3 linked regions of the Homo sapiens genome follow. The protein of the gene in region 1 interacts with the protein of each later gene in a biochemical or structural test. Each region holds a gene or a part of one and is shown in the gene's direction. Other genes may lie near its edges.

Region 1 (3,500 bases):
TTTTACTTCAAATTATCTTTTCTGAAAATCAATCAATTCTGAAAAATTTGTATTTTAACTCTTGAATGAAATGCAAGAAAATGTAGTTTATATATATTTTAATTTGACTTAGTTGACTAGAGGAGAATGTGAAAGATTATAAAAGTTTCGTATCATTTGGCTAAAGATTAATGTTTTGGAAAAAAGAGGTAAAAACAGATTATAAGAGATAATATGAATGGTTTTTAGAACTGAGTGAGATTACTTAGGAAATAAATACTTATGGTTAATAAAGGGTAATGTGTTCTAATGAGAAGTAATTTGTGCTTGTTTATTTTTACTCTTCTATGTTTTAAAAAGAATTCAAGGCATCGTCTTATAGTGGTCCCTTTCTTTCTAAAATCATTTTATCTAAAATGATACAACCCTTGATTATATAATAGATTTTTATTTTTAAAAATATCCCATAGTAGTAGTCAAGTAAATATATACTGCTGTTAAACACTGTGTCCCAATTTATATTTTTATTTGTAGTGGAGACTTTCAATTTGTATAACATGCTCATTTATTCTTAAAATATAAATTTTCAACTAGAAAAATAAATCCCTTCTCTCAAATACTGTGATCTGAAGTCTATTCCTAATGCTGCCAGTCTCTTCTTATGTAGCGTTAGGAAAAAAATGTGGCAATTCGTACATTTCTCAAATAGCTGCCTTCATCCTACCTAATATGAGTATTTTAAAATCAGTAGAATTGTTCATGATATGAAATTTTACTTTTATAATCTGTCTTTACATTCTTTTCATGGCATTTTCACATTAGAAAAGGTGTTTATGGAAAACTATTATGTTAAGCCCCATGCCTTGTTTCTCTTATTAACATTTACAGAATAACTATGAAACTACATTTACTTGGGTGAGTTTCTTAACTTCCCTAAGCCTCAATTTCCTTGTCTGTAAAACAGAGAGAATAATAGGACTTACAGTGTTTCTGCGAGAGTTAATGACATATTTCATCTAATTATAATCACATGGTATAATTTCTCCTTGTAAATATTCAATATATGGTTTTTGCTGTCATGATAATGATGCCAACTTTTCGATTTCAAGTGTACTAGTACTGTGCTTCTACTTTGTTCTTATTTTCTACCCCCAGATGACCCCTCACTCCTCATTTTCATTTTTGCCCACGCACCACCATTTATTCACACACACACACACACACACATTCATGATTGTAATTTTGAGAAGACAAGAAAAAGAAGTGGTATAGAAAATAGAAAATGACAGAAGAATATAGATTTTTTAGCTTCTTCTAACTTCCTCACTCCCATCTCTTTGGAAAGAGTAATTGCTACTTCAGCTATTTAAATATAGTATTCAGAGCAAACATTGGCCCAAGAGGTTATTTCAAAGAAGAGGAAAAAGACTTTATGTCAAGTTTGTCCAACCCATGGCCTGGGGCCCCCATGTGGACTAGGATAGCTTTGAATGCAGCCCAACACAAATTTATAAACTGTCTGAAAACATTAGGAGATTTTTTTTGCAACTGGTTTTTTTTTTTTTTTTTGATTCATCAGCTATCGTTAGTATATTTTATGTGTGGCCCAAGACAGTTCTTCTTCCAGTGTGGCCTAGGGAAGCCAAAAGATTGGACACCCCTGCTTTATGGGTTCTGAGGTGGAGTGTTGGCTAGGACTCACTTATAAAATTTTTTTTAAATTTTCTTTTCTGAGAAAATGAGGAATATACATGGTTATATAATTCACATACATATCTGAAATTGGTATTATATTAACTTATATTAATTTGAACTAGAAAATTATATTCACCACTCATTTGTGGTGAAATTTAATTCTTTCTTCAAAGTGTGAGGAATTTGCCTTCCTTGCCATCTCAGGAATGCTCCATGACTACTTTCATCTATATTTTAAATATTCTATCACTAATACATAATGTTTGTTTAATTTTCAAATTATTGTAGGTTCTGTCTCTAACTGGATCATTTTCTTCTTTTTAGAGTATTTATTTCATTTGCATCCCTGCTTAGTGTCTAATGAAATATTTAATAAGAGTTACTGTCAGTTTCTGTGGAAAGATATAGAATTGGGAAAAATTAAAAAATGCCTTTCTAATAAGAATGTCTTTTTTTAGATGGAGTGAAATTGTCTGTATTTTATTTATTTTAATTTAATTTAATTTAATTTTATTTTGTTTTTGAGACAGTCTCCCTCTGTCGCCCAGGCTGCAGTGCAGTGGTACCATCTCCGTTCACTGCAACCTCCGCCTCCCCAGTTCAAGCGATTCTCCTGCCTCAGCCTCCCTAGTAGCCAGGACTACAGATGTGCATTTGTAGAGACAGGGTTTCCCCATGTTGCCCAGGCTGGTCTGGAACTCCTGGGCTCAAGTGATCAGCCCGCCTCAGCCTCCCAAAGTGCTGGGATTACAGGCATGAGCCACCGCACCGGGCCTTCTGCCTGTCTTTTAAACTTGGGGTCCCCAGTCCCTGGGCCACGGACCGGTACCTGTCTGTGGCCTCTTAGGAACCCGGCCACAAAGCGGGAGGTGAGAGAGCAGCATTACCACCTGCGCTCCACCTCCTGTCAGATCAGCGCAGCATTAGATTCTTAGAGGAGCAGAACCCTATTGTGAACTGGGCATGCGCTCCTCATGAGAATCTAATGCCTGGTGATCTGAAGTGGAACAGTTTCATCCCGAAATCCTGAACCATCTCCCATCCCCCATTAGTGGAAAAATTGTCTTCCATGAAACCGGTCCCTGGTGCCAAAAAGGTTGGGGACTGCTGTTTTAAACAACAAATCAGAATTCTCAGATATCTTCTTGTTGCTTTTATTAATGTATACTAATTGACTATTTTTGTATCTTTTAAAGGAGCAGCCTTTACTGTTCTGATATTCCATCTATTCATCCCATATCTGAGCCCAAAGATTGCTATTTGCAGAGTGATGGTTTTTATGAATGCATTTTCCAGCCAATCTTCCTATTATCTGGCTACACAATGTGGATTAGGATCAATCACTCTCTAGGTTCACTTGACTCTCCACCAACATGTGTCCTTCCTGATTCTGTGGGTATGTCAAGCTGCGTTGTGTCTTCATTTGTGTTAGCAGATTTGTATGCAGATTGATGCAGATTTAATGTTATATTTTGCCATTTTCTGATCACATTAGATTTTGAAAAAAAAATTGTTCCTGTTTACAGTGGTATTGAGAAAATCAGCCTTAGGAAGTTTTACAGTTTTGAATTCATTTCAAATTATTTATAGCAGACTTTTTTTAGCAATAGGAATATTTTCTGCACACTATTAGATGAAATACATGGGTCATTATGAATGAATTTTAGTAGTGTTTTTCTAAATAAGGCATTATTTTATGTTTTTGTTCCAATGTAGTTATGAAAACATGTAATATTTGTAATCCAAACGTTTAATTTGAATATTCTGAGGTTCTCAATAATCTGAGTACTCATAACTCAAGCCTTTAATTTGTGAGGCTATGTAGG
Region 2 (3,500 bases), about 130 Mb from region 1:
TGACAAAGCAGATGCATTCATAGTAGCCAAAACCTGGAAACAGCCCAAATGTGTATTCACTGTTGAATCCTAGGTAAAATGTGGTGTATCTTTACAATAACTACTGATAATTTTTTAAAATTCTAACTATGACACATGCAACTAAGTGAATGAATCTTCAGAACATTACATTGAGTGCAATATGTTAGGAGTGAAAAAGTACTTACTGTTTGTTTCATTTTATTTACATGCAATGGGTAAAAAGACAAACTTAATCTGTAGTTAACAGAAAGTTGATCAGAAGGTACGTGAGTCTGGTCAAAGGAGCTGAGTTGACTGGGAAGTACCACAGAAGGACATTTTGGGATCACAGAAATTTTCTTTATCTTGATTGTGGTGTTGGTTATGTGGATGTATACATTTGTTAAAAATGCATTAAACTGTATCTCAAATGGGTACATTTTAATGTAAATTTTACTTCAGACATTTTATTTAAACATTTATCAGTTTTTCTCAGTTTCAAATGACTAGTTACTGGAAGCAATGACAAGTGCTACTCAATGACTGCTAAATTTATTGGTGCTATGAATGCCAGATTTTTAGCACAGCAAAATCTACAAATTCCAGGATTTTTAGGTAGTATCTGGGCAAGAATATATATGAATAATGTATATGAAAGGAAGAGGGGGTTCTTAGATATCTTCAAGTCAGTGGAATGCTTAGGTTTCACAGTGCCAATCTGGTGTGACATTTACTTTGTTAAAGGAATTTACTCTAAAACAAATTAAATGAGCCCAGATGCATTTCTTTAAATTTTATTTTGAATTCATCATTTGTCAAAATATGGTTATCAATAATGCATGCTTATAATATGAAGAATGCTTTATCCATGTCTTATTTTTCATATTACATAACATTCTTATTCTTTTAACAGGTCCAGGAGAGCCTCAGATTATTTTTTGTAGAAGTGAAGCTGCACATCAAGGAGTAATTACCTGGAATCCCCCTCAAAGATCATTTCATAATTTTACCCTCTGTTATATAAAAGAGACAGGTAATTTGTGTAGAATTTAATTTCATCAGAAAAGAGAAATCAAGAATTTGAAAGTACTAGAAATTTTTATTGAGCCAGTGAGTCACAAAGCTCTCTGCTTAGAGACTGCATAGGCATAGTATACTCCCTGATCTTAGAATTGCTTCCACTCATTCAAAGCTTTCCAGCCCCAGAAATGACTAAAATCCAGAACATTCTAAATATTTGCTTGTCCTTCTTGGTCTTAGTTTAAATCTTTGTGCTCCAAAGCCTAGAGACAGAAAACCTCTGGATGACAACACTCATTTCTGTCTTGCAAGTATTATGTAAGTGATTTGACTCACTTTGAACTCATCATTCAGCCTCCTAAACAAACCAACAAACAAGCAAACCCCTTGTAAAACTTGTTTCAGCTAATAATACAGACAAAATGTTGGGTGAATAAAAATGAACATGGGCCCATGTAGCCGCTGGGGCCAGTTTGGTGTAATCTTGGGAGCATAGTTCTAAGTTTAGAATTAGACTTCTGCAGAAGTAATGCAATTAAAAAAAAAAAGAAGAAGAAAGAAATGTGCTATGACTAGTTCACTCATGAAATGTTCAAATGAGATGCTATTTAAGAGAACAAATATCTTCTGGACAATTTAAAGTATCTAAATTGTTTGTAGAAAGTAACATCAGTGGAGTATCTCAGAGCAGCCTCAATGCCTGGGATAGCCCTTTCTCTATTCTTTTATCCATAGGTTAAAATAGGAATGAAGTGAACCTCATAGAATTCTGTCACTCTGTGCTGTGGGGAAGGAACCAGACATACACTTCAAAACTTGAAAAGTGAAAGGCTATTTTTCTTCATTATGTTATTTTATATTTTAATGGCCTTTTCTTGCTAGTGTCTTTAGGTCTTAATAATCAGACTACTAAAGCAAAGTTAAATATGCATGTAGTTTTCAAATTAACATTCAAAGGCCAAGGAAAATAAATATATACTATATATTTGAGGTTATGATAAATTTAAAAGTTAAGTCTATGTGGAAGGAAAAATGGAAATTCCAGGAAGATAAAACAGCAGAGGTACTGTCTGCCTCATTGGACACCTCTTTTACAAACACTTTGTGTAGCTTCTATGGGAACACATTGTTCATTTTTTTTTTCTCTTCTCTGAATCTTCTATTCACTATCCCTTTCTGCATTCCTCAATGTCTACACTCTCTCTACTAGAGAGTATTGTCGATGTCAGAGTATATGGTAGACATTTTATGCATTTATGGCTCTTTTATATTTTTACAGTTTTTTTAAACTGTATTTCCACTGTATTTGCATAATTAGGGTAAAAAGGATGTAATGAGTTAGTAGCAACTCATTACAGCAACTAGCATGGGTCCTTCTTATTGGGCAACTAAATAGTGTTACCCAAATTTAACAGCTGTCCACATAGAACACTTAAACGGGATTGAATGGCTGAGAAGGGGAGGCTAGCTATCAGGCTGTGTGTTTTCTTTTCTCCAAAGCTGCCGATTGGTGACTGAATGCAGCTTTGGACCATGCCCTGACACTGCATAAAGGGCTCTTTGGAGCCAGCTCTACTCTAAACAGCGTGCTCCGCTTTTGTTTTCTCCTTCATCTCAAACATATACCTGTCTCCTCTCCCATGTTACCTAAGGCAAAGAGAGTTGATAGGATTATAGTATCGTTAAGGCAACTTAACTTTTCTCACCATTTTAAATAAAATTACTATTAAAAATCCACAGGAAGAAAGTCTATGAAATTTGCAGTTTACTTTTTAATCAGATATTAAATTTCACTTCATTACTTCACAATTTAATTTTTTCAGTGTCTCTAAAAGAGAGGGATTAAAAGAGGAGAAAAAATGCAATTGACATTAATTTAGTTTTATTGGTTTAGCAGGTTTTTTTAATTATGTATTATTTAAAGATTTTATCAACTATTTTAATAACTCAGTGGAGATGTGCATACATATCTTCATAGTTCATATGATGAAACTGAGGTTAACAGAAAATGTGATAGATGTTCAAGTTCAGTAGCTTGATCTGTTTCCTTTCTGCTCTTGGTTTTGTTTGTTTGTTTGTTTGAGAGGGAGTCTCCCTCTGTCGCCCAGGCTGGAGTGCAGTCATGCGATCTCGGCTCACTGCAAGCTCCGCCTCCCAGGTTCACGCCATTCTCCCGCCTCAGCCTCCCTAGTAGCTGGGACTACAGGCGCCCGCCACCACGCCCGGCTAATTTTTTTGTATTTTTAGTAGAGACGGGGTTTCACTGTGTTAGCCAGGATAGTCTGGATCTCCTGATCTCGTGTGATCCGATCCGCCCGCCTCGGCCTCCCAAAGTGTGTTTGTTTATTTTTCCTCACATTTTTAGCTTAAGATATTTTGGAGAACTGCAGTTTTATCTCGTTAACTTAATGATGGCAAGTGACAGTGAAGCTTCTTGGTAATTGGGGAATTGGGGAAGAGATCTTTTGTGCTTTATTGGA
Region 3 (3,500 bases), on another chromosome or scaffold:
GGAATTGGCCGGACAGGGACGTTCATTGTGATTGATATTCTTATTGACATCATCAGAGAGAAAGGTGGGTCATCTGGTGGGCAAGAAGCGACAGTTTCTGTTTTTAGTTTATGGAAGGAAAGTGCTCACGAAAACAGTCTGGGGAAGAGAGGTTGAATGGGAAAATTCTTTCACAAAAATCTGGGCTGAAGACTTCAGTGTGTCTGCCTGAGAACAGAAGTGACACTATTTGAGCTTTTGGCATAAAATGAAGTCTAGGAGCTGCAGAACCCACTGCCATGGCCTTTTGTTGCATACACAGTGGTGGTCTCTATCCAGCCACCTGACCTTGTTTACAGTATGGGGTGATTTGTTGGCAAGTGAGGGAATCCTGACTTCTGCCACTTCGTTATTTATGTAGTCTTCTGGGATCATTGGTATTGGTCAGAAGTTCAACACTGTAGCCATTGCAACATGCTCAGTTAAAACAGCAAAGACTAAATTAGCATTGTCTCTGAGTCCACTAAAAGTTGTGCATTAAACAACTTCATCCTGGCTCTGCAGTTTCTCTTTATTCTTCATGATGTTTCCTTCGTAGGTGTTGACTGCGATATTGACGTTCCCAAAACCATCCAGATGGTGCGGTCTCAGAGGTCAGGGATGGTCCAGACAGAAGCACAGTACCGATTTATCTATATGGCGGTCCAGCATTATATTGAAACACTACAGCGCAGGATTGAAGAAGAGCAGGTACCAGCCTGAGGGCTGGCATGCGGATTCTCATTCTCTTGCTAGGCCTCTTGGATACGCTCTCCTTTTGAGCAGGAGGACAGGCTCTGATAGACAACTGTTTGATTTCGGAATGGGAAACAAACTCCCAACTAAAAGGGCCTCTGGAAACTGTCAATTATTCTCCACTTCTCAGCTCTGATTTTTCACTGCAGAGGAGCTTAGGGAAGGGCACCATCCTATCAGCCTGGCCTGCCAGATTGAAGAACTGCCATGCAGAAAGGTTCTGATGTTCTCAGGCTCATGTGGCAAGCGTAAAACTCAAAGCCTTGAAGTTTCTAGCCTGTTCCAGCCTTGATCCAGGCCATGTTTATCCTGATTCCATCCTTTAAAACGAATGCCTCACTCTTAATAGCGCACGGCAGTTTGAACCACTAATTTGGTCGAGTTGGAAACAGTGAAATTTCAATTTTAATAAGCTGTGCATAATGAAGAGGAATGTGGAATTGGAGCCTTTCCATCTGAAGCTATTCATAACAGGCACAAAGCTGAGTTAATTAGGAATATGCTGAGATGAAGGAAATGAGGAGAGCTGCTCTTTTGGGGGCTGTGCTTCTCTCCCCAACCCCTCAACCCCATTGCCATGCTGCAGATGGGGTGGTGTCTAAACATCAGTGGCGAGTGCCTGCATTACTCTGCTCGTTGCCTTCCAGAGAACTCAGCTTCTCCAAATGCTGAGCTCTTTTCAGAATGGGACCTGCCACCAGTATTTGAAAGATTTCTAGCCTAGCAGAACAGCAGCCACGTTATCAAAGTTTGGTTGGCCAAAGGAAGGTACTTGCTAATTAGTTTAGTAGGTTTTCAGTCCGCACAGACATACGGGATTGTTTTATTGTACATAGACATCTTCAGAAACAGTGTATGTATAGAAATGTAAGGTCAAAATTTGAACCTCAGTGCTTTAAATCTGAATTTGTATTAACTGATATGAAATATTTAGACGGTTACTTTATTTTATATCTGTCTTCCATTATACTTAATTTGGCTCAAGAATAGTTAGGCAAAAAGTTGCCCAAAGAGAAGGATCTCCTAGTAAATACAAAGAGAATGTAACATAGTTGCTACAAGTTGGAGCATGTTCAGGGATGTCTTTTTTTTTTTTTTTTTTTGAGAGAGAGGTCTCTCTCTGTTGCCCAGGCTGGAGTGCAGTGGTGTAATCATGGCTCACTGCAGCCTCAATCTCCCAGGCTTAAGCGATCCTCCCACCTCAGCCTCCCAAGTAGCTGGGACTATAGGCATGCGCCACCACACCTAGCTAATTTTCGCATTTTTTGTAGTGTCACAGTTTCGCCATGTTGCCCAGGCTAGTCTCGAATTCCTAGGCTCAAGCAGTGCTTCTGCCTCAGCCTCTCTGAGTAGTTAGGACTACAAATTTGTGGCTCCATGCCCGGCTAATTTTTTTATCTTTATTTTGTAGAGACAAGGTCTCACTGTGTTGCCCAGGCTAGTCTTGAACTCCTGGGCTCAAACAACCCTCCCACTTTGGGTTTCCAAAGTGCTGGGATTACAAGTGTGAGCCACTGAGCCCAGTGACCTCTGGGTTTTAAAAATGTGTAGGCTTCAATTATTTATTTTAAAAAATGAAATCCTGCAATATATAGTTTTCTGCGTTGTGTGGTTTGAATCAATCTGGGAACTGGCTTGCTGGCTGATTGTGGTAAAGTAAGAAGTACTTAATTTAGTAGAAAGTTTAAATGGCAGACATAACATTAAACCCAGCTGATTTATAAATGAAGCAAAAGAACAAAACTCATTCAGGATAATTGGTTATTCTAAAATACAGTCATTTCTAAAATTATGAAGTGTTCAGGACCTTTGGGAGTGAAAGAATTTGCTAAAGAAGGATCAGTGAAAAAAAGGAATGATGGGTGAAGAGCTGTGGAGAAGGAAGAGAAGAAACAGCACAAGGAAGGAAGAATATAAAATCAGATGTGGGAATCCAGGGGAAAGTGCAAACGAAGCAAGATTGAGAAAATTCTCAAGTTTTTATAAACAGTTCTCACACTCTGCCAGTTCCTTGGAGGTAGACTTTTTTGTTAACTTCCAACTACAGTAGTGAAAAAAAAAAAAAAACCCTCAAATTTGCAAAAGCAGTCTGTGGAATTTTCTTTACCCAGCTTTCCTGACTGTTAACTTTTTAGCACACTTAACTTTATCATTCGTTTATTCTCTCTGTTTAAAATTAAAAATGTAAATTTTAAAAAGTAAAATGTTTGTTGGTTACAAACATTTATACCCCTTTGTCTCTAAATATCATTTCATTTTAAAAAATGAATAATCTAAGCCTACACATTCTAAAATGTGTATATTTTCTAAAAATAAGGGCATTCTCTTACATAACCAATGTCACAATTATTTGATACAGTGATCAAAATCAGGAAACTAACATTGATATAACACTATTATCTAACCTACAGACCATCTTCAAATTTTGTCCTGCTAGTATCTTTTATGGGTCCAGGGTCACACAGTGCATTTGGCTATAATGTATCTTTTTTCTCTTTTTTTGAGACAGGGTCTCACTTTGTTGCCCAGGTTGGAGTGCAGTGGTGCAATTATGGCTCACGGCAGCCTTGACCTCCTTGGGCTCAGGTGATCCTCCCACCTCAGCCTCTCGAGTAGCTGGAGACCACAGGTGTGCACCACCATGCCTGGCTAAGTTTTGTATTTTTTGTAGAGATGGAGCTTCGCCGTGTTGCCCCGGCTGGCCTTGAACTCCTGGGCTCAAGTGA

Evidence for each region.
Region 2: of the proteins of LEPR (region 1) and PTPRC, one has a biochemical effect on the other in vitro, tested with the Homo sapiens proteins (one large-scale study listed by IntAct).
Region 3: the proteins of LEPR (region 1) and PTPN11 form a complex in vitro, tested with the Homo sapiens proteins (one study listed by BioGRID).

What each region holds. Positions count from the first base shown.
Region 1 is NC_000001.11:65,602,168-65,605,667, forward strand, and holds part of LEPR (leptin receptor isoform 1 precursor), read left to right. Parts: intron 1-2,870; coding exon 2,871-3,070; intron 3,071-3,500. UniProt on the Homo sapiens protein: Receptor for hormone LEP/leptin. On ligand binding, mediates LEP central and peripheral effects through the activation of different signaling pathways such as JAK2/STAT3 and MAPK cascade/FOS.
Region 2 is NC_000001.11:198,712,040-198,715,539, forward strand, and holds part of PTPRC (receptor-type tyrosine-protein phosphatase C isoform 1 precursor), read left to right. Parts: intron 1-913; coding exon 914-1,033; intron 1,034-3,500. UniProt on the Homo sapiens protein: Protein tyrosine-protein phosphatase required for T-cell activation through the antigen receptor. Acts as a positive regulator of T-cell coactivation upon binding to DPP4.
Region 3 is NC_000012.12:112,488,447-112,491,946, forward strand, and holds part of PTPN11 (tyrosine-protein phosphatase non-receptor type 11), read left to right. Parts: coding exon 1-64; intron 65-577; coding exon 578-729; intron 730-737; exon of another isoform or gene 738-1,542; intron 1,543-2,571; exon of another isoform or gene 2,572-2,978; intron 2,979-3,500. UniProt on the Homo sapiens protein: Acts downstream of various receptor and cytoplasmic protein tyrosine kinases to participate in the signal transduction from the cell surface to the nucleus. Positively regulates MAPK signal transduction pathway. Dephosphorylates GAB1, ARHGAP35 and EGFR.